Homo sapiens: one gene and its partners. The protein of the gene in region 1 purifies or fractionates together with the protein of each later gene. This does not show direct contact. Each region holds a gene or a part of one and is shown on either strand. Other genes may lie near its edges.

What was found.
Region 2: the proteins of LMAN2L (region 1) and KIAA0319L purify together in Homo sapiens (affinity purification with mass spectrometry; 2 studies listed by BioGRID and IntAct, with this or other methods). This does not show direct contact.
Region 3: the proteins of LMAN2L (region 1) and TMEM245 purify together in Homo sapiens (co-immunoprecipitation; 3 studies listed by BioGRID and IntAct, with this or other methods). This does not show direct contact.
Region 4: the proteins of LMAN2L (region 1) and CNTNAP1 purify together in Homo sapiens (co-immunoprecipitation; 3 studies listed by BioGRID and IntAct, with this or other methods). This does not show direct contact.
Region 5: the proteins of LMAN2L (region 1) and MFAP3 purify together in Homo sapiens (affinity purification with mass spectrometry; 2 studies listed by BioGRID and IntAct, with this or other methods). This does not show direct contact.
Region 6: the proteins of LMAN2L (region 1) and ABCA2 purify together in Homo sapiens (affinity purification with mass spectrometry; 2 studies listed by BioGRID and IntAct, with this or other methods). This does not show direct contact.
Region 7: the proteins of LMAN2L (region 1) and COLEC12 purify together in Homo sapiens (affinity purification with mass spectrometry; 2 studies listed by BioGRID and IntAct, with this or other methods). This does not show direct contact.

What each region holds. Positions count from the first base shown.
Region 1 is NC_000002.12:96,705,429-96,709,064, forward strand, and holds the end of LMAN2L (VIP36-like protein isoform 2 precursor), read right to left. Parts: intron 2,406-3,636; coding exon 2,286-2,405; intron 1,971-2,285; coding exon 1,828-1,970; 3' UTR 501-1,827; downstream 1-500. UniProt on the Homo sapiens protein: May be involved in the regulation of export from the endoplasmic reticulum of a subset of glycoproteins. May function as a regulator of ERGIC-53.
Region 2 is NC_000001.11:35,435,404-35,438,903, reverse strand, and holds part of KIAA0319L (dyslexia-associated protein KIAA0319-like protein), read left to right. Parts: intron 1-3,306; coding exon of another isoform or gene 3,307-3,422; exon of another isoform or gene 3,423-3,500.
Region 3 is NC_000009.12:109,032,948-109,036,447, forward strand, and holds part of TMEM245 (transmembrane protein 245), read right to left. Parts: intron 3,434-3,500; coding exon 3,259-3,433; intron 555-3,258; coding exon 360-554; intron 1-359.
Region 4 is NC_000017.11:42,696,031-42,699,530, forward strand, and holds part of CNTNAP1 (contactin-associated protein 1 precursor), read left to right. Parts: coding exon 1-122; intron 123-1,243; coding exon 1,244-1,337; intron 1,338-1,523; coding exon 1,524-1,769; intron 1,770-1,872; coding exon 1,873-1,920; intron 1,921-2,587; coding exon 2,588-2,880; 3' UTR 2,881-3,500. UniProt on the Homo sapiens protein: Required, with CNTNAP2, for radial and longitudinal organization of myelinated axons. Plays a role in the formation of functional distinct domains critical for saltatory conduction of nerve impulses in myelinated nerve fibers.
Region 5 is NC_000005.10:154,041,967-154,045,466, forward strand, and holds part of MFAP3 (microfibril-associated glycoprotein 3 isoform 1 precursor), read left to right. Parts: intron 1-3,500. UniProt on the Homo sapiens protein: Component of the elastin-associated microfibrils.
Region 6 is NC_000009.12:137,014,738-137,018,237, reverse strand, and holds part of ABCA2 (ATP-binding cassette sub-family A member 2), read left to right. Parts: coding exon 1-60; intron 61-162; coding exon 163-265; intron 266-336; coding exon 337-451; intron 452-545; coding exon 546-736; intron 737-891; coding exon 892-1,042; intron 1,043-1,113; coding exon 1,114-1,318; intron 1,319-1,499; coding exon 1,500-1,664; intron 1,665-1,766; coding exon 1,767-1,947; intron 1,948-2,063; coding exon 2,064-2,276; intron 2,277-2,366; coding exon 2,367-2,563; intron 2,564-2,641; coding exon 2,642-2,824; intron 2,825-3,140; coding exon 3,141-3,325; intron 3,326-3,427; coding exon 3,428-3,500. UniProt on the Homo sapiens protein: Probable lipid transporter that modulates cholesterol sequestration in the late endosome/lysosome by regulating the intracellular sphingolipid metabolism, in turn participates in cholesterol homeostasis.
Region 7 is NC_000018.10:343,702-347,201, forward strand, and holds part of COLEC12 (collectin-12), read right to left. Parts: coding exon 2,594-3,500; intron 1-2,593. UniProt on the Homo sapiens protein: Scavenger receptor that displays several functions associated with host defense. Promotes binding and phagocytosis of Gram-positive, Gram-negative bacteria and yeast.

The DNA of each region.
Region 1 (3,636 bases):
TGCCCCTCCCCTCTGATGAGACCCCTTCCACCTGCACTGCTGCCTTGGCCATCTCAAGAGCCCACCTAGGTCCTCCCACGGGTCCATACAATCTCCCCTTCAACTCAAAAAAGACAAAACCACCATTTTCTTTTTCAGTTCTCCCTGCTCCAAGGCCAAGCTCTAGGTCAGTTTGTCCTCTGGCACCCTGGAGCCATTCTACTATTGTGGAGGGGAGGTGGGAGGAAGATGCCTCCACCTGAATCCCACCTGCAGGAGAGCACTATAGCCTGTGCTGTTTAAGTGCATGGGAAGGAAAGAAAGCCTGAAGAGACAGAGACCTCTGCCTAGCCAAGGTGACCCCCTTTCCTTCTGAGCTGAGCTGAGGGCTTTTCCAACCCAGGAGAAGGCAAAACAACGGTTGATGGGCTTGAAGCTCAAAAAAAAGGCCTGCTCAGAATAAAGGCCTGAACTTTCCCCAAACCCACTCCTAGAAGAAAGAACACAGTCAGAAGCTCATGTTTGGTTCCATCGGTGATTTTAAGAATTTCATTTAGGCTACAGAGGTTCATAGGAGGACTCAGAGTTCCAGGCCCTCCAAGGAGACTCTGGCCTGTAACTGATTTAATCCCAGGGCAGTAAGGTGAGCAGCATGTAACCCCTTGTCAAATAAGGCAGTGGAATAAGGGTTGACAGAGGCCAGCACTCAGGCTGTGCTGCTCAATGACAGTGAACTCTTCCAGGCACAGATGATGAGGGTCTGTTGCTCTCAGACTTGGAACATGAGAACAGCAACTGTCTCTTGTCCATTAAGAAAAAAAAAGCCAAATTTCTTCTCTGGGCAATATCCAAGCCCAAGGTGTAAGAAGAAAGCTTCCTTACACTTTCAGCACTCAAAGTGGGATTCCAAAAATCGTAACTACAAAACATGCAGCTAAGCAGGCTCTAGCAAGTCCAGAAACATCTCCACATGGTCAGACCACATGACAAATGTTGCTTTTGGTTTGATCAAACCTGGAGCTGGTCAGTTGCACAGCTAATCCATGGCATCCATGATGTCTTCCAGGCTTCTCTTGATTTTTACACCAACCTTTAGCCAAACTTCACTGAGGGCCTGAAGAGACTTGATTGGGAAGGCCATGGACATGCCAATAGACCCAAGACCCATGCTAGGGAACAGTGATCCAAAGCAGAAAGCCATCTCCCTAGGGCCACCTAATGAAGGCCAGTGAAACGCAGGTGTGTTCTGCAGCCCCAGGCCCCAACAGAGAGGCATCCAAATGCCTTTCCCAGCTCAGGTTGCACACAGAGAGGACAATGAATGGAGTGAAAGGAAGGTAAGGCAGGGAAGAAGTTTCCATCCTGGTTTCCAAAGAAAGCTCCTCAGGTAGGCAGAGGGTTGGGTCAAATGCAAAACCCAACGAATGGATGGTCAGAAAGCCTGTGGTGTTACCAGTTTTTAATTCTTTGTGGATTCAAAACTGAAGTAGAAGGGCCTTCTGAGTCAAACAACACGGCAGCCTGGGCTATGAAATTCTGTTCTGTGATTTTGGCATCACAACCACGTAAATTCTCTTCACACCTCTGCTCCCACATGGAAGGACTGCAGGGAAAGGCACATCACAGCAGCATTGCCCTGGGGTGGGTGGCTTCCCAGACCAGAGTTAGATGTCCCCATGCACAACCATGGGAATGCGGGGTCCCTGCATTCAAAACTCCAGTGACAGAATATAGTCCCCAACCAGCTGCTAGAGACAAGAACACTCTCCAGGCTGCATGCTCAGGCCAGTGCCTGCTCCTTCCATACCTCATGGGTGACAGTCACAAAAGTGGTGGCAGCAGGAGGGCTCAGTAGAAGCGCTTTCGGCTCTGTTCCTGCCATTTGTTGTAGAGTATGATACCAATGACTATGGCAAATACAGAAAACACCAGGGAGAAAAAGACGATGAGGAAGAGGGCCAGGCCACTCAGGGGCGGCAGTGGAGCTGTCACTGAGGAAGCAAGAGAGAAGCAAGTCAGAAAACAGGGAGCCCACCCAATAGGGAAGGATCAAACTATAGGCTGTCCGGCCCCCAGTTTCTGACACCTACTTCTGGGAAGCCAGAGCTTAGACCCCCTCTTTCCAACTGAGAAACAAAGCGGCCCTCCTGCTGCTCATCTGTAACTTGAAGGGGAAAGGCAGATGAAAGTGCTCCCTACCCTTCAGAAGAAGAACACAGAGCAGAGACCGCCCTGTGAGCTATGGGTACAGCACTGCAAGCTCCTCCCCAACTATGGGACCATTTCCCGCGGGCCCCTGTGCTCACTCTCAGGCAGCTTCATATTGTCCACTGAGGGCAAGAACACATCTCGATGGAGCTTTTCCTCTTCTGGGGTTCTCTCCACTGTCAGTTCAAACAACTTCAAGGAAATGACATCATGATTATCTGAAGAAAAATGGAAGAAGGATGACTTGTGCCACTTGAAAAAGAGGTATGTTTCTTGAAGTCAGTATCTTAGTTCAAGCCTCTGATCCACAGCTAACCAGCAGTGACCTTGAAAAAATAATTGAAACCTCTCCATTTTGCAACTAAAAATAAGGATGGGGAACAAGGCATATTCTATATCTTCTGTATTTAAGTTTTTATCAACAAGCATGCATTACCTGTATAGAAGATCGCTGACTTAAAATGGTTCGACTTACAATTTTCCAACTTTATGATGGTGTGAAAGTAATCTGCGCTTAGCAGAAACCATACTTCAAAATTTGAGTTTTGATCTTTTCCCAGGCTAGCGATGTGTAGTACAACACTCTGTACTGAGGCTGGGCAGCAGCAGTGAGCTGTAGCTCCCAGTGAGCCACACAATCACAAGGGTAAACAACCAGTACTGCATCGTGTACTGTATTCCATACGTTACATCAGACATTCAACACTTTGTTACAGAATAGGCTTTGTGTTAGATGATTTTGCCCAACTGTAGGCTAATGTAAATGTTCTAAGCACATTTAAGGTAGACTAGGCTAAGCTATGATGTTCAGTAGGGTAGGTGTATTGAATGCATTTTCAACTTACAATATCTACAACCTACAATGAGTTTATTGGGACATAACGCCATTGTATGTCAAGACGCATCTGTATAATTAAAAAATTTGGAGATAAAACCACAATTAAATCCCATATGTTAAACCTTCCAGCACAGTAAGAACAGACAAAGTAGGACTGCAGCTTCCCCGCTGGTGAAGACCACACACGTGCACACACACACACGTACAACAGGAAAAGGTCTCATGGCCGCTGTTTAATGGGCCATGGGCAGGGCACAGCTATGGGCATGGGATACACTGCCCTTCTAGACTATGCCTGTTTCTCTGTGGCTTCTTGTACTTGTGACTCTTAATCTCCCTAATAATTACCAGAGAGAAGATCAAGCAATTAGGGACTAGATTTCTCTCTTTAAAGTATCATTATAAACTCCTACATTTAACCATATCTGATGTGTTGCAATGCACTGAAGTTAGACTTTTTTTTTTTTTTTTTTTTTTTGAGACAGAGTTTTGCTCTTGTTGCCCAGGCTGGAGTGCAATGGCACGATCTCGGCTCACTGCAACCTCTGCCTCCCAGGTTCAAGCAATTCCCCTGCCTCAGCCTCCCAAGTAGCTGGGATTACAGGCATGCA
Region 2 (3,500 bases), on another chromosome or scaffold:
AAGTAGCTGGGACCACAGGCATGCGCCACCATCCCCAGGTTTTTTTGTTGTTGTTGTTGTTGTTTTGTATTTTTGGTAGAGACGGGGTTTCATCATGTTGCCTAGGCTGTTCTTGAACTCCTGGGCTTAAGTGATCTGCCTGCCTTGGTCTCCTAAAGTGCTGGGATTATAGGTGTGAGCCATGGCACCCGGTCTTGGTTTATATTTTAAAAAGACAACTGTGTAGCTGGGCGTGGTGGTGGGTGCCTGTAATCCCAGCTACTCGAGAGGCCAAGGCAGGAGAATTGCTAGAACCTGGGGGTGTGAAGGTTTCAGTGAACTGAGATCACTCCAACCTGGGCAATAAAGCCAGACTCTGTCTCAAAAAAAAAAAAAAAAAAAAAAAAAAGATAACTGTGGCTGACAGATGCAGGGGTTGGAGGGGAAAGGCTAGCTGAAAGGAAGTTAGATAGAATGTCCTTGGGGTTGAGAGGCAGATAGATTCTAGATACATTTTTGAGGAAGACTTGATGAGGTTAGTGGTCTGCTGGCCAAGGCGTGTGGGAGAAGGGAGAAAGGAAGGATGGCTCCCAGCTTCAGCACTGAGCCTCTGTGGGTTGGGTGGTGGTAGTATCCCTGAGATGGGAGAGACTGGAGAAGAAATGGTGGAGATCAAGTGTTTGGTGCAAGACAGTTATGAATGGAGTTGAGGGAATGAGAATGAAAGATTGACAAGGCCCAAATTGTGAAAGTTTGACTATCAGCCTGCAGAGTTAAACATTTATCCTGGTGATGCTGGGAAGCAAAGTCTTGGATAAGCTGGTTTAGGAAAATCAGTCTGGTGACAACATATAATAATTGAAGGGGAGTGGCTACAAGTGTGGAGACCAGCAAGGAGATTTTTGGTCCAAGGAGGAGCTGACAGTGATTCACACAGCGTGGTGTCAGTGGGTTATAGCTAGGTCTGGCAAGGTCAGGGCTGACTTCCAACCGAGAGATGGAGAATGATAGTGCTGTTGACAGAATCAGAACCTCTGATGCAGTGACTGGGTAAGAGAAGATGAATTAAATGGAACTCAGCAGAAGAGTCAGACATGGAACTGTAGAAATAGGAATCTCCCATCTGCTGGTGAGGATCAGCACCACAAAGGGTCACATCCCTTATGGGGGAATGTTGAAGGACAAAAGAAGAGGCCTAGGGTTGAGGACCCCAAGAATGACCATCCAGGAGGGAGGAGGGGATTCATTAGGGGACAGCCGTCGGTGTTTGCTGCTGCAAAGGCCAAAGAATCAGAATTGATAGCACCAGAGAAGCTCCTGGCCCATCAGAGAGCTGCAGTAGAGTGGGGAGTGACAGTGGAAGTGAAAGCGCAGGTGATTTAGAAAGCGCAGTGAGGAGATGAAGGCCCTGAATATTTAAAAATCCTTTTAGAAGCTGAGCAGTGAAAGCTAGAGAAGCAGGATGGCAGGCAGAGGGCAAGGGCCTCCTCTTCCTCAGAGAAGGGCTCATGAACAGATCTGTGGGTGGCAATGTCGAATGCAGGTAGAGGAGTGGTGCGTTGGAGAGGTGCTTCCTGACTGAGGAGGAAGGAGGGAGAAGGGAAGAGAGGAGAGAAAGGGAGCATGGAGTTCAGATGCCTCTTCTGAGGCAGGAGGGGAGAAACGGGCGGTGATGGCCCGGAGAAGTGCCGCGCTGCAGAGGTGAGATTGGATGGGAGCCTGAGCTCAGCACATCGGACATCTTAGGGAGAGGGGAGAGCCATGGGGTGTTCCAGTGGCATCTAGGTGACCAAAACCAACAACGTGCGACCAGGTGAGGGCAGCAGGGCTGGTCTCTTGTGGGCAGTGTCTACCGAAGGGAGCTGGGAGAGCCCGCTCAGGTTCGGTGTGGGTCTGAGCAGGCCGGAAGCACTGGTTCTTGTTCTGGGCTCAGTGGGTTAGCAGGTCCAGCCTAGAGTAGAGTCACTAGGAGGACGAGGAGAATGAGATTCAAGACCATATGGTGTCAGGTATGGAACTGAAGAAGTTTAGCTGGAAGAAGGGTAAACTGAGTGGGTCCGTTGGGGGGAAAGAGGATGTGTGTGCGCGGGAGTCTGGACGGACAGTTTGCCAGGAGCCAGTTTAGGCTGAGGATGAACAGTAACTGAGGAAGGAGAGCAGTGCCACCTGGTAAGTGTAGGGCTGCCCCCCTCAGGAGGCCCCCTTTACATTCAGCAGCTATGGCTTTGTTTTCTCTTGTTGCTGTTGTTTTTTGTTGTTGTTTTTGTTTTCTATTGATTTTTTTTCTAAAACTTTCTATTGAAGTATATTAGGTTGAACCTAGGCTCCTGTCCTCACTGCTATAGCCAGAGGGGCTTTGGGAAGGAGGCAGCTGTGAACAGGTGGGTATTTCAAGGGGTGAGGCAGGGCCTTTGGAGGACCTGGGCCCTTGCCAGGGCCCTTTCCACTGTCCCCACCACACTGGAGATGTCCTGGCGGTCAGTGTTCTTCTGTGGCCCTGCTGCTCCGCTGCCCGAAGACTCAGTAGGAGAGGTTCAGTCAAGACCCAGAACTGTAACCCTGACACCAACGCGGGTGAGGAAGCTCCCTGCCCAAGCCCCAGAGCATGTGGCACAGGCACAGCTGTACATGGACAAGGTCCTTGGGCGCATGTGGTCCTGAATGGCAGGCGCATCAGGGTCTGGATGCGCTCAGCCTGGAGAGCTCGGGGCACTGCCACCCTTAAGTCAGGTGTGGCCAGGAAGGGCTGAATGGCTGGGAATCCTCTCAAGGCACTTTCAGTATGTGAGGGAGATCTGGATCCTTCTCCCCGGAGAAGGGAGAATGATTATTGGATGATGAGATTGTGGTGCTGGAGAGGGCTCTCCCCTCTCCCTAAGATGTCCACCCCTCACCTGACTGGTTACCTTTTTTAGAAAGGAGGGAGGTTAGCTCCTGGGCGTGGGCATTCCCAGGACCCAGAACACTGCTGAGGGGGTGCCACCTGTTGGCAGCTCCCACTCTAGTCCTGCTATCTCAGCCTGCTGTTTGTTTTCTCTGGAGTTTTTGCACCAGCCAGAGGGCAGCCATCTTTGCTGTTGGAACTCTTCTTATCAGACCACATTTCATGTCTGTGGCCGCTCGGCATCTATAGGGATAAGTAGTGAAGGGACTGCCATGGCTTGCAGAATCGCAGGTGTCTTCTTCGACCCCAGGTGCTTCATACGGTTCTTGCTTTGTGTGTTCTGTGATTTGGCTGCTTGGGACTGCTTCTGAGAGTCCCCATTTCAGTCAGGCTCTCCCAGCAGGAGAGACCTGTCCAAGTGTGCACCTACTCTGCCACCCTAGCATCCAGTGAAGCCACAGCAGACAAGAGCCCACAGAGCAAATGTCTACATGGACTGAAACTGCACACTCCTGCTGTGCCAGCACTCAGCGGCCTTGCTGACCTAGGGTGCAGCTAAAAGCTCATTCTCCAGAGCCTGAGTTCTTTGTGCTTTCCTGCCTACCATGTCATTCCACCCATAGAGGGAGGTGATAAA
Region 3 (3,500 bases), on another chromosome or scaffold:
GCCACCACACCTGGCTGATTTTTGTATTTTTAGTAGAGATGGGGTTTCGCCATGTTGGCCAGGCTGGGCTCGAACTCCTGACCTCAGGTGATCCACCTGCCTTGTTCTCCCAAAGTGCTGGGATTATAGGCGTGAGCCACTGCTCCCGGCCCCAATATAGGTTTTAAATTTTCTTGGTATATGAAACCCAAAACTCTGCCAACGATTTGTATTTACTTAGTGTCTTCTGCAACCTTTATCACAGCATTGGTACTCAAATACCTTTATCCTGACAAGTCTGGATGAAGCTACTTATCAAATACAGAGACAGGACAGTTCAATGTATAAATACAGCTTATGATTATTCTGCTTTAACTCACCGCTGAGGCTGAGCAGGCCATGGGGTCTGGTTTGGCGTGGGAACTGAATTCGTGGGACTCACTAGCATGGCACTATAGATATTGGAAGCAACCACAAGTATGCAGAGAAGAATAGGACCGATGATTGCTCCTTCCAGGCCTAGGTAGTATGCTCCACCGGCCACTGCCAAGCCTGTCAGGTAAGGATGGCCACCTCTGGAATAAAGAGCACGACCTTTAACACACAAAAACTGGAAAAAATCTGAAATACATTTCTAATACAATGTGCATTCTTTAATACACTATGCTTTTTAGCATATTATCAGCTTTCTTTAGATCACCTCGATGCATACAACTGAACACTGACTGCAATAATATTGAGATGCAACAATATTGAGATGCAACAATTGTTTTTCCTATGGATGACATCTGCCTCTTTTTATAGCTCCAGGAATGAAAGAATAAAGCCAGCAATGTTAACAGATATTTTATACCCATTACAGGTGCCTGCCTATGATGGGTTAATGTTGGCTTGGGACTGGTTAGGAGTCACCTGTTAAGTTAACCTCCATCAAGGATAATTAAGTGAGCACAATTTAGCATGTAATTCAGTTAATTATGCTTTTATATGACGACAGCAACAATGAGAGCATCCCTGTTACTCATAGGTCAGACTTTTGGCAACCTCCTAAAATATAGTTTTTAACATAGGTGATGATAAAAGGCCTCCTGAGGAAAATATCTGTCACAAAGCCCAAGATTTCTATTTCACAGGAGAATCACAAATGCCCTCCAGCTTATTACAGTATCACTTATGTAAGCGGAATGAAATAAAACAGAACACAGTAGCATAGCACATTGATAATGACAAGAAAGGACCACTGACATCAGAAGGACTGGGAAATAAGTCACATTCTGTTTGTTTCTAGTTTTAAACATAGATGAGAAGAACAATTCAGTGAGGGGCAAATAACTAAATATCCTGGAAGGATGTTCTATATTACAGCTAAATCAAAGTAAGACTTGTGGAGAACCAGTCTTCAGGAAACCAATAAATTATATTCATAATGTGTTTGTCTTTCTCATTCCAAAAAAATGATTTAGGGCAGTATTCCATGTTTGCTAAGTAAACTTCTTCCCTAAACAACACATTCAAGGAAAACTATCAAAAATGCTTAAAGCTTTTTATTCCGCTCCATCACCCAGGCTGGAATGCAGTGCCGCAATCACAGCTTACTGCAGTCTTGACCTCCCAGACTCAAGTGATCTTCCTACCTCAGCCTCCTGAGTAGCTGGGACTACAGGCATGTGCCACCACACCAAACTAATCTTTATATTTTTGTGGAGAACGGGTTTCACCATGTTTCCCCGGCTGGTCTTGAGCTCCTGGGCTCAAGTGATCCACCCACCTCGGCCTCTCAAAGTGGTAGGATTACAGGCTTGAGCCACTATGCTCAGCCTTAAAGCTTTTTTTAAAAAAAATAAAAACGTGTGGGAGTTTATGAATAAAAGCTTAACCTATTAAAAAATAAAACAATTTATGCCAAACCTTTCATTTCCCAATAACAACGTTTAAAGACAGTATTTTAGGCCGGGCATCGTGGCTCATGCCTGTAATCCCAGCAGTTTGGGAGGCCAAGGCAGGCGGATCACTTGAGGTCAGGAGTTCAAGATCAGCCTGATCAACATGGTGAAATCCCATCTCTAGTAAAAATACAAAAATTAGCCGGGTGTGGTGGTGCACGCCTGTAATCCCAGCTACTCAGGAGGCTGAGGCAGGAGAATGGCTTGAACCTGGGAGGCGAAGGTTGCAGTGAGGCGAGATTGCACCACTGCACTCCAGCCTGGGTGATAGAGGGAGACTCTGTCTCAAAAAAAAAAAAAAAAAAAAAAAAAGACAGTGTTTCTTTAATTCCAGCTGTAAACCTTAATATAAAATTTACAGCAAAGTTTAAAGAAATAAAAGCACTTAAGTATTAATCATACTTATTCCTGCTCAAATGTCAACTGTGACACACTAGTTAACCACACTATGATGTTCAGCTTTTTAATTTTCTCTCTCAAGTTTTAATGTGACTGAGAACTGGCTTGATATACTTAATGCAATTTCTAAAAGAGATGTCAAAACCTATAAAAACAGACATTTATTTATTGTATTATATGGCTAAAGTGTTGATTCTGACTTAGATTTAACCTGTATTTATCATAGAACCATTCCAATTATATCTTTAGAGAGCTCTGCTTGCCAGAAATTAACTTGCTGAGATTTGGTTTCACATGGATATCCTCAGACATACAATCTAACAACATTTTCTCCAAAACCAAAGAAGAGATAAAAATAATCATTAACTGTTCACTGTACTTAAAATATTTGATGTACATCTGGTCATAATTCTTTTCTAGGTTAAATGTCACTAAATCAAGAGAAAATTATTCACAATTTGGTTTTAACCCAGGACATCATATATATTATAAATATTACATATGTAATAAGAAAATATTGGCTGGGCATGGTGGTTCATTCCCGTAATCCTAGTGCCTTGGGAAGTTCAAGGCAGGAGGACTGCTTGAGCCTAGGAGTTCAAGGTTCAAGGCTGCCATGAGCCATGACTGCACCCTGCACTCTAGCAGTCTGAGTGAAAGAGATATTGTCTCAAAAAAAAAAAAAAAAAAAAGTTGCTCTGGAACTCTGGGGCAACAACAACCAAAAAAAAAAAAAAAAACCCCAAAATATCATGCCTTGTAAACAATACTATTTTCAATGAAAATTTCATTTGTGGGAACACAAAAGGCTATTTCACTGAAAATTCCTACTACCAGTTCTTTTGTATACCCCCAGGAGAAAAAAATCCTCCTTTAAAAAAAAAAAAACGGAAATGCCTGGATGATTCACTAATAAGAAATTCTGTGGCTTACTTACCCTGATATGTCAGAGTAGATTGCAGTATCTACAAAGTATGTTGGCAAGAGATGAAAAATCAACAGTAAAATGGCCTTGCATCCTAACCCTTGTGTCAGCCACAGGTCAAGAACTGCAGGTACTGCTGCCCAGTATGTCCCCAGGAATGGCACTGCTCCAAGGATTGCTGCTAATGCTGAAAAAAGAGTAAAAGAAAAACAACTTAACATCATCAGCAAAACACTAACAAAGCAAAAGAATCT
Region 4 (3,500 bases), on another chromosome or scaffold:
TTCAGCTGCGATATCAGCTGGGCACCAGTCCCTACGTGTACCAGCTAACCACTCGACCAGTGACCGATGGCCAGCCCCATAGCATCAATATCACCCGTGTTTACCGGAACCTCTTCATCCAGGTATGCATAGAGGGAGGTGAGCCAGTTCAGATCATAACCTCATGGTCTCCGTTGTGGCATCCAGGAAAACATCAAATACTTAATATTTGTAGATCACATTTGAATGTATAGAGGATTTTCACGTGTGTCACCTCATGTAACCCTCACAATAGCTCCAAGGGGACAATAGGCATTTTTTTTTTTTTTTTGAGATGGAATTTTGCTCTTGTTGCCCAGGCTGGAGTGCAATGGTGTGATCTCAGCTCACTGCAACCTCTGCCTCCCGGGTTCAAGCAATTCTTCTGCCTCAGCCTCCCGAGCAGCTGAGATTACAGGCATGCGCCACAACGCCCAGCTAATTTTGTATTTTTAGTAGAGACAGGAGTTCTCCATGTTGGTCAGGCTGGTCTCGAACACCCGACCTCAGATGATCCGCCTACCTCAGCCTCCCAAAGTGCTGGGATTATAAGCGTGAGCCACCGCGCCCAGCCAGACAATAGGCATTCTTATTTAAGTGTTTTACAAATCAGTAAAGAGCCTCAGAAAGTAAAGCGGTTTCAGCTACTCAGGAGGGTGAGGCAGGAAAATTGCTTGAACCTGGGAGGTGGAGGTTGCAGTGAGCTGAGATCGTGCCACTGCACTCCAGGCCTAGGCGACAGAGTGAGACTCCATCTCAAAAAAATAAAGTGGTTTACCCAAAGTCAAACCGCTGGTAAGCTGCAAAGATGGGGCTTAAAACCAGGGTTTTAAAAAATATATAGGCCAGGTGCAGCGGCTCACACCTGTAATCCCAACACTTTGGGAGGCTGAAGTGGGAGGACTGCTTGAGGCCAGGAGTTTGAGACCAACCTGAGCAACATAGCAAGACCTCATCTTCACAAAGAAAAATATTTAATAAATAAAATAAAATAATAATAATAAAAATATATATACCAAATCCTACATCTAGGCCCAGGGGTTGCCCACTTCAGATTGAGCTAGGACTCACCCAGCTGGCACCGCCAGTTTGGACAGAATGAGAGATCTCCAGTATCTGCCCCCAAGTATATTCCCAGGGTCCACACAGTTCCAGTCCAGCCCACAGGCATCTGCTTCTGGTCCCCGCTCCCTCATCGCCCTCCCCCTCCCCCTCCCCACCTCAGGTGGACTACTTCCCACTGACAGAGCAGAAGTTCTCGCTGTTGGTGGACAGCCAGTTGGACTCACCCAAGGCCTTGTATTTAGGGCGTGTGATGGGTAAGCTGCGGGTGCGGACGCGTTTTAGGCAAGGAGCTGTGGCATATGTTCCTGGATCCTCAAGGAAAGTGAAGGCCCTGGGAATGGCTGAGGGCAGTGGGAAGGATGAGTGGGAAACCTGTGGACAGTGAGAGTGGCAGGGCCTTTGGGTCCAAGTCCCTCTTTCTGGGCCTGCCTCTCTCTCAGAGACAGGAGTCATTGACCCGGAGATCCAGCGCTACAACACCCCAGGTTTCTCAGGCTGCCTGTCTGGTGTTCGATTCAACAACGTGGCTCCCCTCAAGACCCACTTCCGAACCCCTCGACCCATGACTGCTGAGCTAGCTGAGGCCCTTCGAGTTCAGGGAGAACTGTCCGAATCTAATTGCGGAGCTATGCCACGTCTTGTTTCAGAGGTGCCACCTGAGCTTGATCCCTGGTATCTGCCCCCAGGTACATTCCCAGGACACAGAGGACAGAAGGGAGGGATGACACGGAAGGGAATGATTCTTAACATGGAGGAGGCATCTCCTAACTGGTGCTTTCTCCTCTCCAGACTTCCCCTACTACCATGATGAAGGATGGGTTGCCATACTTTTAGGCTGTGAGTAGCACTGATCACTAAGCTGACCTCCCAAGACTACCCTCTGACTGTCAGCATCCTTTCCCTGCCCCTGATCCCCAAGGCTGCAGGATGGCAAAGGCACTAGATGCACAATGGCACAAAGGATGATGAGACAGGCTATGCTGAAGGTGCCATATAACTGGGCAGAGATTTTTAGATGTTTGAGGATGAGACAGGCTATGCTGAAGGTGACATATAACTGGGCAGAGATTTTTAGATGTTTGAGGATGCTACAGATTTTTAAATAAAATATTAAAATGAGACTATAGCTAAGGGATGGGAAAATGGGGATACAGTAACACCTAGAGAGATAAGAAATTGGGGTAACTACCAGGGATGTGGAAAGAGAATATTAGAAACAGAAGGTGGCAGGGGGTAAGCCAGGAATTCAAACCTGCCAGACACTTGAGATGAGTTTAGTGTGGTCGAACAGCTAACTGAGGGTCATACATTATGCTTTTGGCCAAAAGTAAATGTGTGTGTGTGTGTGTGTGTGTGTGTGTGTGTGTGCAGGTGAAATCCCAAAGTGTGTGTATGTATACAGGTGAAATCTCAAAGAGTGCGTGTGTGTGTGTGTGTGTGTGTGTGTGTGTGTGTATACAGGTGAGATCCCAAAGATCTGAATTGTCCCTTTTCTTCTTTTCAGTTTTGGTGGCCTTTCTGCTGCTGGGGCTGGTGGGAATGTTGGTGCTCTTCTATCTGCAAAATCATCGCTATAAGGGCTCCTACCATACCAATGAGCCCAAGGCTGCCCACGAGTACCATCCTGGCAGCAAACCTCCCCTACCCACTTCAGGCCCTGCCCAGGTCCCCACCCCTACAGCAGCTCCCAACCAAGCTCCAGCCTCAGCCCCAGCCCCAGCCCCAACTCCAGCCCCAGCCCCTGGCCCCCGGGATCAGAACCTACCCCAGATCCTGGAGGAGTCCAGGTCTGAATGAGTCAGAAGGGCTTCTGGGACCAATTCCAGCTCCTGACATTCCCCCAGTCCTGCCTCTCCCCCATCCTATCAGGGACATTTGGCTCCTCTTAGCTGGCTCTGCTCATCCAGAGGATATTCCCCCATCCCCCCCCCATCAAGTTTGGTGGGCAGAGCTACAGATGGGACCCAAGGGAGTGGCCGAGCCTCACTGCCTAAACCAATGCCCTTCTCATCCCTGTTTCCCCAGGCTCCTGGCTGTTTATCTGCCCCAAAGGAGAAGCCTCATGGGGTTGACATAGGTCCTTTCTGCCATCTCTGTTCCAGCTGCTGTCAGGGATTAACAACAGAGTGTAGGGGAGATTAACTGCCTCCCTTCCAATAGACACTATCAGCAGGGACAGATGTGTGGGAGTGCAGGGCTGCAGAGGGTATGGGGGGAGGAGGCTGCTAAACCCTATCCCCCAGCCTCCCCCCTGCCCTGAAGATCTTCCATTTGCTTCCACTCAGCTGGAGGCTCAAGAGGGCTTGATGGCTGTCCCCTGCCCCCCTCCTTTTGTTTTGTACACAGAGACCAAGAGGCCTCAGTTTAGCACCTTAGTACCTCCGCTGCTTCACTTGCTTTAGCCAAAGCCATAAAAA
Region 5 (3,500 bases), on another chromosome or scaffold:
GAAAACTAAGGCCTTGCAAGCCTATGGCTTCACCCAGGGGTAGGATCAGGCACCTTAACTCTAGAGCCCATTCTCCTAACCACTGAGCCATGATTGTCTTACAATTTTGATACTGCAAAACTGGAAGAATTGTCTGGCTATTATCTAAGCTGTTCATAAGCTGAACAAGTAGATCTGAGGGTAAGAGGAGTTCTGTTTTAACTAGACTGAGTTTCAAATAGAGATGTTTCAGACTATAGAGGGGGAAAAATGGCCTGGGAAGATCATAAATCTAAGCCTGTTTCATTGATGTTTTTGTCATTTGCATCCAGTAGCTATTCAGCAAATATACCTATGGCAAAAAGGATATAAGTTATGGGTATAACTGAAATAATCCTGGGTTTAAAGCAAAGCTCTGATAAATACAGACGATGTTTCTCCAGGTGCCAGAAGATATGTTGAAGTTTGAGCTCAGACTGACCAAATGCTAGTTATGGGGTATGTGATAGCTCCAAGGTAGTAATATAAAGGCTATTTTAATTAGAAACTTTTGAGTAAATGGCCCTCAGGATAGTGATTTCTGTTTGAATGTCACTAACCTTTTTTAGTTACAGATCCCTATAATAATGCTTGAGTCTAGGCAGAACAACTTTGTGTTTATTCTTTGCAAAGGGTAGGGTAGTGCTAACAACCTGCTCTTCATTTGCTTTTTCTCCCCTTTGCCGATTCAGAATGCTGCTTTGTCAATTTGTGTGCCTGCTGTAGGAACTGGTCCGTTTTCCAAGTGTGACAGTGCAGGCAGAGAAGGGTGGATGAGCTGTAAATGCAGCCTAGAACACATTTGATTATAGAGAATGAAGCACTAATATCCCAATATAATTGGAGTTTAAAAAAAAAAAATACCACCTGGGCATCAATGTGTTTCCCTGCTTTGCATTTTCCCAGAACTATTTCTGCAAACATCAGTTTCCTCAGCCAACTTAATATTGAGTCACCAGAACGGAAATCAGCCATATTACTTCCTTATTTGTGTTGAAAATTGGAACAGAATGGAAATATTTCTTCCCTCAGAAGTTGGCAGGAACGGCAACAAGACAATCTGTTAGGGGTGACAGCTATAGGCTCTTCTCTTTTTTAAAAATAATATAGTCAATATTCAACATGGTTTTCTGGGGTAAAATCATCCACATTTCTGATTCTTTATGATCCTAGCAAAGCTTACATTCTGTATACCTGAAAGATGAAAAAGGAGTTGGATTAAACTTGAGTCTTACACTTATCTATTACATTTTTATTTATTAATGCTGAAGAAAGGTAATATAGGCTGGGCGCGGTGGCTCACGCCTGTAATCCCAGCACTTTGGGAGGCCGAGGCAGCCAGATCACCTGAGGTTGGGAGTTCAAGATCAGCCTGTCCAACATGGAGAAACCCCGTCTCTACTAAAAATACAAAAAATTAGCCAGGCGTGGTGGTGCATGCCTGTAATCCCAGTTACTTGCGAGGCTGAGGTGGGAGAATCGCTTGAACCTGGGGGGTGGAGGTTGCAGTGAGCCGAGATCTCACCATTGCGCTCCAGCCTGGGCAACAAGAGCGAAACTCCGTCACACACACACACACACACAAAAAGGAAAGGTAATAAAAAATTTTATCAAGTAACTTCATCCACAAACATAGTATAGCCCTTTTTAACTGATAAGAAGAAGGTGACACTTTGGTTTTCCTTTTTGAAATCTGTTCTTGGGTTTCAAATGTCAGCTGCTACATTAAAAACAGCAGGCATAATATATATATATATATTTTTTTTTCCAAATACAAATGCACGTACTCTTGTGTCTCCCATGGCATCTAATATACCTGCCTTAATGACCTCAGCCCACTTAACTGATTTGGTGAACAATTCTGCATCTGAGGCTGTATATGTGAGGAAAAATTAAAGGATTGGAAATGAAAGTAAAATAACTATAGTATAAAGGATCATATGTTCAAAGCATGCAGGCCTAATATTATAGGAAGTCCCAAACATATAAGTGAATTGCATTCCTAGAACTGACACATTTGTCTTTTCTCTGTTGCATTCACAATATAATTACATTTCAGTCACATTGTCTTAGATACAGTTGGCTGTTTCTGGGCTGTCTTTCAAGCTGGTTTGTAAATTCCTGAGGGTCTAGGACAGTGTCCTAATTCTCCTTAGCAACTCTTGCACCACCTACTGTACTTCATCTTCCACGATGGATCCTTGACCTAGCTGAGCTGTAGTTTTAAAGTCATTAGTCTAGAATGAGCAGAATGGTCATAGTCAATGCAGTTTGTGCTGCAAGTAGCAGAAACCCATTCAAGCTGACTTAGCAAAAAGGAGACTTAGTGTGAGGAAATAATAGTACCCTGATACCAAGGATGATTTGTTCTTCCCTCACTATTTTTTTCTGCTTTGTCACCTTCTTGGACACGTATCTTTGCCAGTGTTTTCTCTCACAGCTGCTGAACAGCCTGTTACCTGCAAATGGGTTATATCCGTTAGTCTTTCAAATCAGAAGTCCTCTGTGTTCAGGATGTACATGGTATGAGTGAAGTGCCCAGTATTAACTGGATGTGTAAGGCTATTGTGCAGCCTCTTTCTCTTGTGGCTCAAAATCAGTGTGCCAGGTTTCTTCTGCCATGTTTGGCCTAAGAGCAGTTTAAGGGAGTTTATAGTGTTTTCCTAAATCCTGTCTGGTAGGTAGAGGCAAATGGCTATGTCTGTACAACACAAGAACCACAAATCTTGGCCACATGGGCAGTTTGCTTGCCACACTCCACTGTGTAAGGAAGAGACTAGAGATCTATGATGAAGATTGCCTGGCAGCCACAGACACAGTTCAATAACTTTTTGTGAACTTAATCTTTTTTCTCCTGCCTAACCATTTCCGCATTTATTACGTGTTTGCACATTCATCTTCACTTTTGTGGTTTTAATTTTGAGTAAAATTTAATAAAGTTGTTTCTTTTTTTAAAAAAAAAAAAGGGTCACAGGAGTGCCAGGAAGTAGAATTCTATCAGGCACCAAAGCACCATGTATGAGTCTCTCTTTGTCTTTCTCCTGCTCCTCTTCCTGTCTTCCCACTCTCTCCCTTCCCCATCCCTCTTGTCCTTTCTTACAGCTTCTCCTTGTATGTGGCCCAAACCTGACTGCCTCAGCCCCCACATGCCTCCTTTTCCTCAAATGACCCTGACCCACAAGGGTCTCAATTCCAAGTTCCAAGAACAAAGATTCTATTAGCTTACTTTGCCAATAGGTTGTCTTCCTCCTAGACCCAAGAAGATAGGGATAGGGCTCAAAGAGGGGAGCCGTTGGGTAAGTAGATCACGACAAATCTTCTCTACCACAAACTGAGGACACATACAATGTCATATCATGGTTGGGATCCAAGCTCAGTTTACAATGCCTATATGCTCCATAATATTGCAAAATATTTGCAATGAGAAAAAGAAAAATGTGAAATTTTAAATTTAAGATTAAAACTGCATAATGGTGTCCCCT
Region 6 (3,500 bases), on another chromosome or scaffold:
GGCCTGGGCCCAATACTGGCGGCCGCTTCTACTTCCTCTACGGCTTCGTCTGGATCCAGGGTGAGGAGCAGGCCCGGAAGACCGGCTGGAGGATTCATGGGGGAGGACAGGTGTGAGGACGAGAGGGCCTGCCCGGCACCTGATGGCTGCCCCCACCCACAGACATGATGGAGCGCGCCATCATCGACACTTTTGTGGGGCACGATGTGGTGGAGCCAGGCAGCTACGTGCAGATGTTCCCCTACCCCTGCTACACACGCGATGAGTGAGTGCTGGGCGCCCGGGGCTGGGGCTGGGGCTGGGGCTGAGTGGCGCCTGAGCGCGGCCTCCCCGCAGCTTCCTGTTTGTCATTGAGCACATGATGCCGCTGTGCATGGTGATCTCCTGGGTCTACTCCGTGGCCATGACCATCCAGCACATCGTGGCGGAGAAGGAGCACCGGCTCAAGGAGGTGCGCGGGCCGGGACTCTCCCTGGAGGCGCGGGCTGGCAGGGAGGGGCGGCGTCCTCCCCGGGGCCTGCCCCAAGCCCCTGGCCCACCCGCAGGTGATGAAGACCATGGGCCTGAACAACGCGGTGCACTGGGTGGCCTGGTTCATCACCGGCTTTGTGCAGCTGTCCATCTCCGTGACAGCACTCACCGCCATCCTGAAGTACGGCCAGGTGCTTATGCACAGCCACGTGGTCATCATCTGGCTCTTCCTGGCAGTCTACGCGGTGGCCACCATCATGTTCTGGTGAGCGCGGGCCATGGTAGGAGGGACCTGGGGCAGGCACTTGCCCAGCAAGCTCACCCCACATCCTCTCAGAGCCCCCTGGACCCTGGCACGGGCCTGCCCAGGAGGCCGGGCGTGCGGGTGGATGACGGTGCGCGTGGCCCCTGCCCACCCAGCTTCCTGGTGTCTGTGCTGTACTCCAAGGCCAAGCTGGCCTCGGCCTGCGGTGGCATCATCTACTTCCTGAGCTACGTGCCCTACATGTACGTGGCGATCCGAGAGGAGGTGGCGCATGATAAGATCACGGCCTTCGAGAAGTGCATCGCGGTGAGGGTCGCGGGCAGGCGGGCGGCTGGGGTGCCGGGCCACCCCACGTGCTGACACCACTGCCTTCTCAGTCCCTCATGTCCACGACGGCCTTTGGTCTGGGCTCTAAGTACTTCGCGCTGTATGAGGTGGCCGGCGTGGGCATCCAGTGGCACACCTTCAGCCAGTCCCCGGTGGAGGGGGACGACTTCAACTTGCTCCTGGCTGTCACCATGCTGATGGTGGACGCCGTGGTCTATGGCATCCTCACGTGGTACATTGAGGCTGTGCACCCAGGTACTGGCCAGCCCTTGGAGGGCAGGGGAGAGGCAGGGGTCCCCAGCCAGGGTTGGGGACCAGCAGTCTGTGTCCACTCCTGGATGCAGCACGGGTGGCTCCCTGGGTGGGCACGTGGCCCACGTGGTGGATGGTCACCCCAGGCCCTAGGTCAGCCTCCCCTCCCCTCCCCGACCCCCAGGCATGTACGGGCTGCCCCGGCCCTGGTACTTCCCACTGCAGAAGTCCTACTGGCTGGGCAGTGGGCGGACAGAAGCCTGGGAGTGGAGCTGGCCGTGGGCACGCACCCCCCGCCTCAGTGTCATGGAGGAGGACCAGGCCTGTGCCATGGAGAGCCGGCGCTTTGGTGAGGCTGGCATCAGAATGGTGGCTGGGGTGGGCGCTGGGTTCAGAGTCCTGGGTGGCCTTGGCGCCGCCCCCACCCTGCTGATCCACAGCCCTGGTGCAGAGGAGACCCGTGGCATGGAGGAGGAGCCCACCCACCTGCCTCTGGTTGTCTGCGTGGACAAACTCACCAAGGTCTACAAGGACGACAAGAAGCTGGCCCTGAACAAGCTGAGCCTGAACCTCTACGAGAACCAGGTGGTCTCCTTCTTGGGCCACAACGGGGCGGGCAAGACCACCACCATGTGAGTGTCGGAGGGGCAGGGCGGTGGGCATCTGCTGACCAGAGCAGGAGTCCTAGTCAGGGCAGGGTGGGGCCCCTGCAGAGGGCGTGGGGTCATGACCCCGCCCACCTACCCAGGTCCATCCTGACCGGCCTGTTCCCTCCAACGTCGGGTTCCGCCACCATCTACGGGCACGACATCCGCACGGAGATGGATGAGATCCGCAAGAACCTGGGCATGTGCCCGCAGCACAATGTGCTCTTTGACCGGCTCACGGTGGAGGAACACCTCTGGTTCTACTCACGGCTCAAGAGCATGGCTCAGGAGGAGATCCGCAGAGAGATGGACAAGTGGGTGGGCTGGGCGGGGGGCGGGGCAGGTGGGCGGAGGCCCTGGGGCTCTGCATAGCAGCAGCCCCATGCCCCACCTCCCTGTCCCAGGATGATCGAGGACCTGGAGCTCTCCAACAAACGGCACTCACTGGTGCAGACATTGTCGGGTGGCATGAAGCGCAAGCTGTCCGTGGCCATCGCCTTCGTGGGCGGCTCTCGCGCCATCATCCTGGACGAGCCCACGGCGGGCGTGGACCCCTACGCGCGCCGCGCCATCTGGGACCTCATCCTGAAGTACAAGCCAGGTGAGTGGGGTGCCGTGTGGGCAGGGGTGCGGGCGGCGCCTCCCCTGCCCCCTGACCCTGGGTCTGGCCTTGTCCTAGGCCGCACCATCCTTCTGTCCACCCACCACATGGATGAGGCTGACCTGCTTGGGGACCGCATTGCCATCATCTCCCATGGGAAGCTCAAGTGCTGCGGCTCCCCGCTCTTCCTCAAGGGCACCTATGGCGACGGGTACCGCCTCACGCTGGTCAAGCGGCCCGCCGAGCCGGGGGGCCCCCAAGGTCTGTGTTGAAGCTGCCTGAGCTGGCTTCGGGCCACCTTCTCCCCGGGACCCCCACCTGAGAATCCACAATGGAGAGGCTGGGCCCTCACCGTCACCCGCTGGGCCCAGGATGCCTGCTGGGGCCTGGCCCGCCCTCTGCAACGCCCGTATCTTGGAGAGGCTGGGTCCTCAGCGTCACCCCCTGGGCCCAGGATACCTGCTGGGGCCTGGTTCTTCCTCTCCAATGCCCATATCTTGACCCAGTTGGGTTCCCATTGGGGGTCCCTCCTCCCAGCCCCTGAGTGAATTCCTTCCTGCTCCCACGTCCCCCACAGAGCCAGGGCTGGCATCCAGCCCCCCAGGTCGGGCCCCGCTGAGCAGCTGCTCCGAGCTCCAGGTGTCCCAGTTCATCCGCAAGCATGTGGCCTCCTGCCTGCTGGTCTCAGACACAAGCACGGAGCTCTCCTACATCCTGCCCAGCGAGGCCGCCAAGAAGGGGGCTTTCGAGCGCCTCTTCCAGGTGTGAGGGCGCACGGGTCGGGGGGCAGTTGCAGGTGGTGGAGGTGGGCGCACTCCTGCCTGGGCGTCCCTGCCGCAGCCTCCCCCTCCACCGCCCCTGCAGCACCTGGAGCGCAGCCTGGATGCACTGCACCTCAGCAGCTTCGGGCTGATGGACACGACCCTGGAGGAAGTGT
Region 7 (3,500 bases), on another chromosome or scaffold:
GGTTTGGCACCAGACGGCCTGGGCTCGGATTCCACTGAGCTACTTTTTACTTGTGTAAACCTCAGCAAGTTACTCAAACCTTCTAAGCCTTAATTTCCTCGTCTATAAACTGGCGATGACATTGTAAGTAGCTGCTTCATAGAGCTGCTGTCAGGATTCATTGGGACGTTGGTGAAAAGTGCTCAGTACATTCACTTTCAATACTAGCTGATAAAAGAATCCTAACAATAGAAACATTAACTTAAACACTCAGGGTCTCACCTTCAAATACTAGCTTTTCATGTCCTTACTTGGCTGATAAGCCACGCTGTCTATAAACTAAATAACTGAAGACAAGGTAACAATTAAATTAATGAAATAATAAAACTATAAAATTAATAACTAGAAAATATCCAGAATACCATGATAAGATTGTCTAAGAATTTTTTTTTAAATCATTTGAAGGGCTACCCCTTTTTCAGAGTAAGACTCACACCTACCATATCCCTGACCTGCAACTGTCCAGCCCCTCCAGAGCTGGGGCATCCTGATTGAGTAGGGGAGCCATTATATTTTCAGCTAATACCCATTTTATGAGGAACATTCTGTAAAACCAAAATTGATCTTCCCTTAGTGAACACCCACTAGTCTTGTTTCACCCAGTGGCATTCCTCAGACAGAGCAACTTTAAATAAGTGCAGATGGCTGTCTTGTTCTCCACTGAACAGGCTCTCCTAGGGGTGAAAGCTCCCAGGTCCTCAACCCTTCCTCACAGTACGTGGTTTCTAGCCCCTATCATTCTGATGTTGCTTTTCTGAGCATGCTGGTCTGGGAATGTCTCTTTTGAAAGGGGCTACTCAAAGTAAACATTATCTTCCAGAGGTGGTCTTGGCATACTGAACAGAGTCAGATGTTACTTCCCTTTTTCTTAACACAGTCCACAGTCAAGGAACACATTCCCTTCCCTGGAAGACATATTTCACTGCTTCCAGTCAACTAAAATCCCCATGCTTCATGCACACTTCCTTCCAGCCATGCCTTCCCATCAACATTTATCTGTTTTGTCTCATCCATTTATGAGCAGGATTTTACATGTATTCCTATCTACTTCATTTGATTGACATCTTGATACTATCCTGGCCTCTCTAGATCATTGTGGATTATGAGTCTATCAGCCACTGGCTGGCATATACAGTTTCAAGTCACACAAGCATTGCTTTAGCAGGTCATCCATGCTAGTCACTGACAAAGCTATTGAACAGAGTCCTGCCATCTGCTATCCGGATCTGCCTTCAGCCTCACAGGGGCTTATTAACTACCACTCTTTACCCTTGATTATTAGACCAGTGTGGGGGACATACCCCAAGGTGGCCCCTAGTGACTCAGGCCCTTGTGTAATCCCTTCCCCTTGAATGTTTGCTTACAGCCCATCTTCTGATGCCCTGAAATTCTCTTTATGTTAAACTCCCTAAGGGTGAGGACCGTTGGTTTCATTTGTATACCCCAGACTGCTGAGCACAGCATCTTCCACCAGTACTTTCAACTTAAAACCTGTGAAAATAGTTTGTGACTGGAAAATACTGTTAATATATGATGCTACAATTCTTCAACTGTGGACTTAGTCTGAGTCAAGGACTTTTAATTTATATGGATGATCTGGATAACAGTAAAATTCAGATTATACGTATGTATTCATTCATTTATTTGTTTATTTAGGAGATGGGATATTGCTATGTTGCCCAGGCTGGTCTCAAACTCCTGGTCTCAAGCGATCCTCCCACCTCAGCCTCCGAAAGTGTTAAGATTACAGGCATGAGCCAGCACACCTACCAAAACTCAGATTTTATAAGCAAGACACATCGTTTCCTTCCTCTGTGACCTTACTGTGACCTCTGTGTTACTGTGATGGCCAACCATTCATCTACTCATGACATGTAACTCCCTTAATGGTAGCTTTGTGACCCAAAAGACTTGATCTTGCTTTCAGAGGAGCTTGATTTATATTGCATTGAAATAGCTCAAGGACCAAGAAAATTCAAATTAACCAACCTTTCACTCAACAAATAATTAATGGAGTCCCTTTAAGTACTGTCCACAGATTCTTAGTTACACTTCTTTTCAAGATGTGGAACTTAATTCCACTTGCATTGAGTGTGGGCTGGACTTAGTGACTTATTTCTAAGAAACAGAATGAAGTGGATGTGATGGTGTGTGGCTTCTGAGGCTAGTATGTCATGGTATCTTCCTTCTTGTTCTCTCTCTTGAATTCCTTGTTCTGGCAGCAGCCAGCTGCCACATTGTGAGGACACTCAAGCAATTTCACACAGCAAGGAACTGAGGCCTCCTGCCAAGAGCTATGTGAACAGGCCACTTAAGTAGCAGACCCTCCAGCCACAGTCAAGCCTTCAGATGACTGCAGCTCTGGCTGAGATCTTGACACAACCTCATGAAAAACAGTGAGTCAGGACCATCTAGCTAAGCTGCTCTTGAATTCCTGGTCCACAAAAACTATGAGATGATGAATATTTATTGTTTTAAATTGCCAAGTTTTAGAGTAACTTGTTATGCAGCAATAAACAACTAATACAAATACAAATTCAGAATTTTGACTTACCTTGTAGTATTGTAAAATTCTTGATGAGCTGACCATGCTTGGAGTCTACTAGCTTCATTTCTTCCATAATCACTGATAAGTTGGCTACTTCAGTGTCTAACCTCGACCTCATCAAATCTTGTTGCATCCTGAGAGAAACAGAATCCAAACGGATGTTGGCCAGGGTATTATTCAAGGAGGTCAGATCATCTGTGTGTTTGGTAAGGGTATCTGTGCAAGTGGTCCTGACTTCATTTAGATTGCTGGTCAGCGTCCGCAGGTGGTGGGCTGTGTAACTGATATTGCTAATGATGTTCACAATATCCGTCTCAAAGAGCTGGAAGCGTTCCTCCAGTTGGTTGAACTTGATGGCTGTTCTATTCTCTGCATCTTTGTGTAAGTCCTGCAGGTCTTTCAGGTTCTGCTCGTTGGCTTGAGAGATAGTGGTGATGTTCTCCATCTGACCTGTGAATGAGTTGAGCTGGCTGTTCATATCCTCCAGGGTGTCGTTGTTGGCTTTGGCCAACGCAGAGTTGTTGGCAGCCAGCGTCTGCAAGCTCTGCACTTTCTCCTTCAGCCAATCCGTGTCCTTCTTGGCTTGAAGAAAAACCTGCTGCAGATTTTGAAAGTCGTTCTTGATTCGCTGGATAGCCTGGCTTGTGTCATCCACAGACCGCTGCAGATTCGTGATGAGGTTCCTCTGCTGCACCTGGGTCAGGTTCAGGTTGTTGAGGTTCATGATGACCACATTATGAGAATACATTTGGTTCTGCAGATTGCCCTGGAGCACGCTGGTATCTTGCTGCAGATTCGTGACATAGCCATTATACGCCTGGAGGGTTTTGTTTACAGTGGTGATGAGGAAAGAGTTATTCTCCAAAGTTTCTTTCAATTGACTCTGCCTGTCCACCAGAGCATCCCCGCTCGC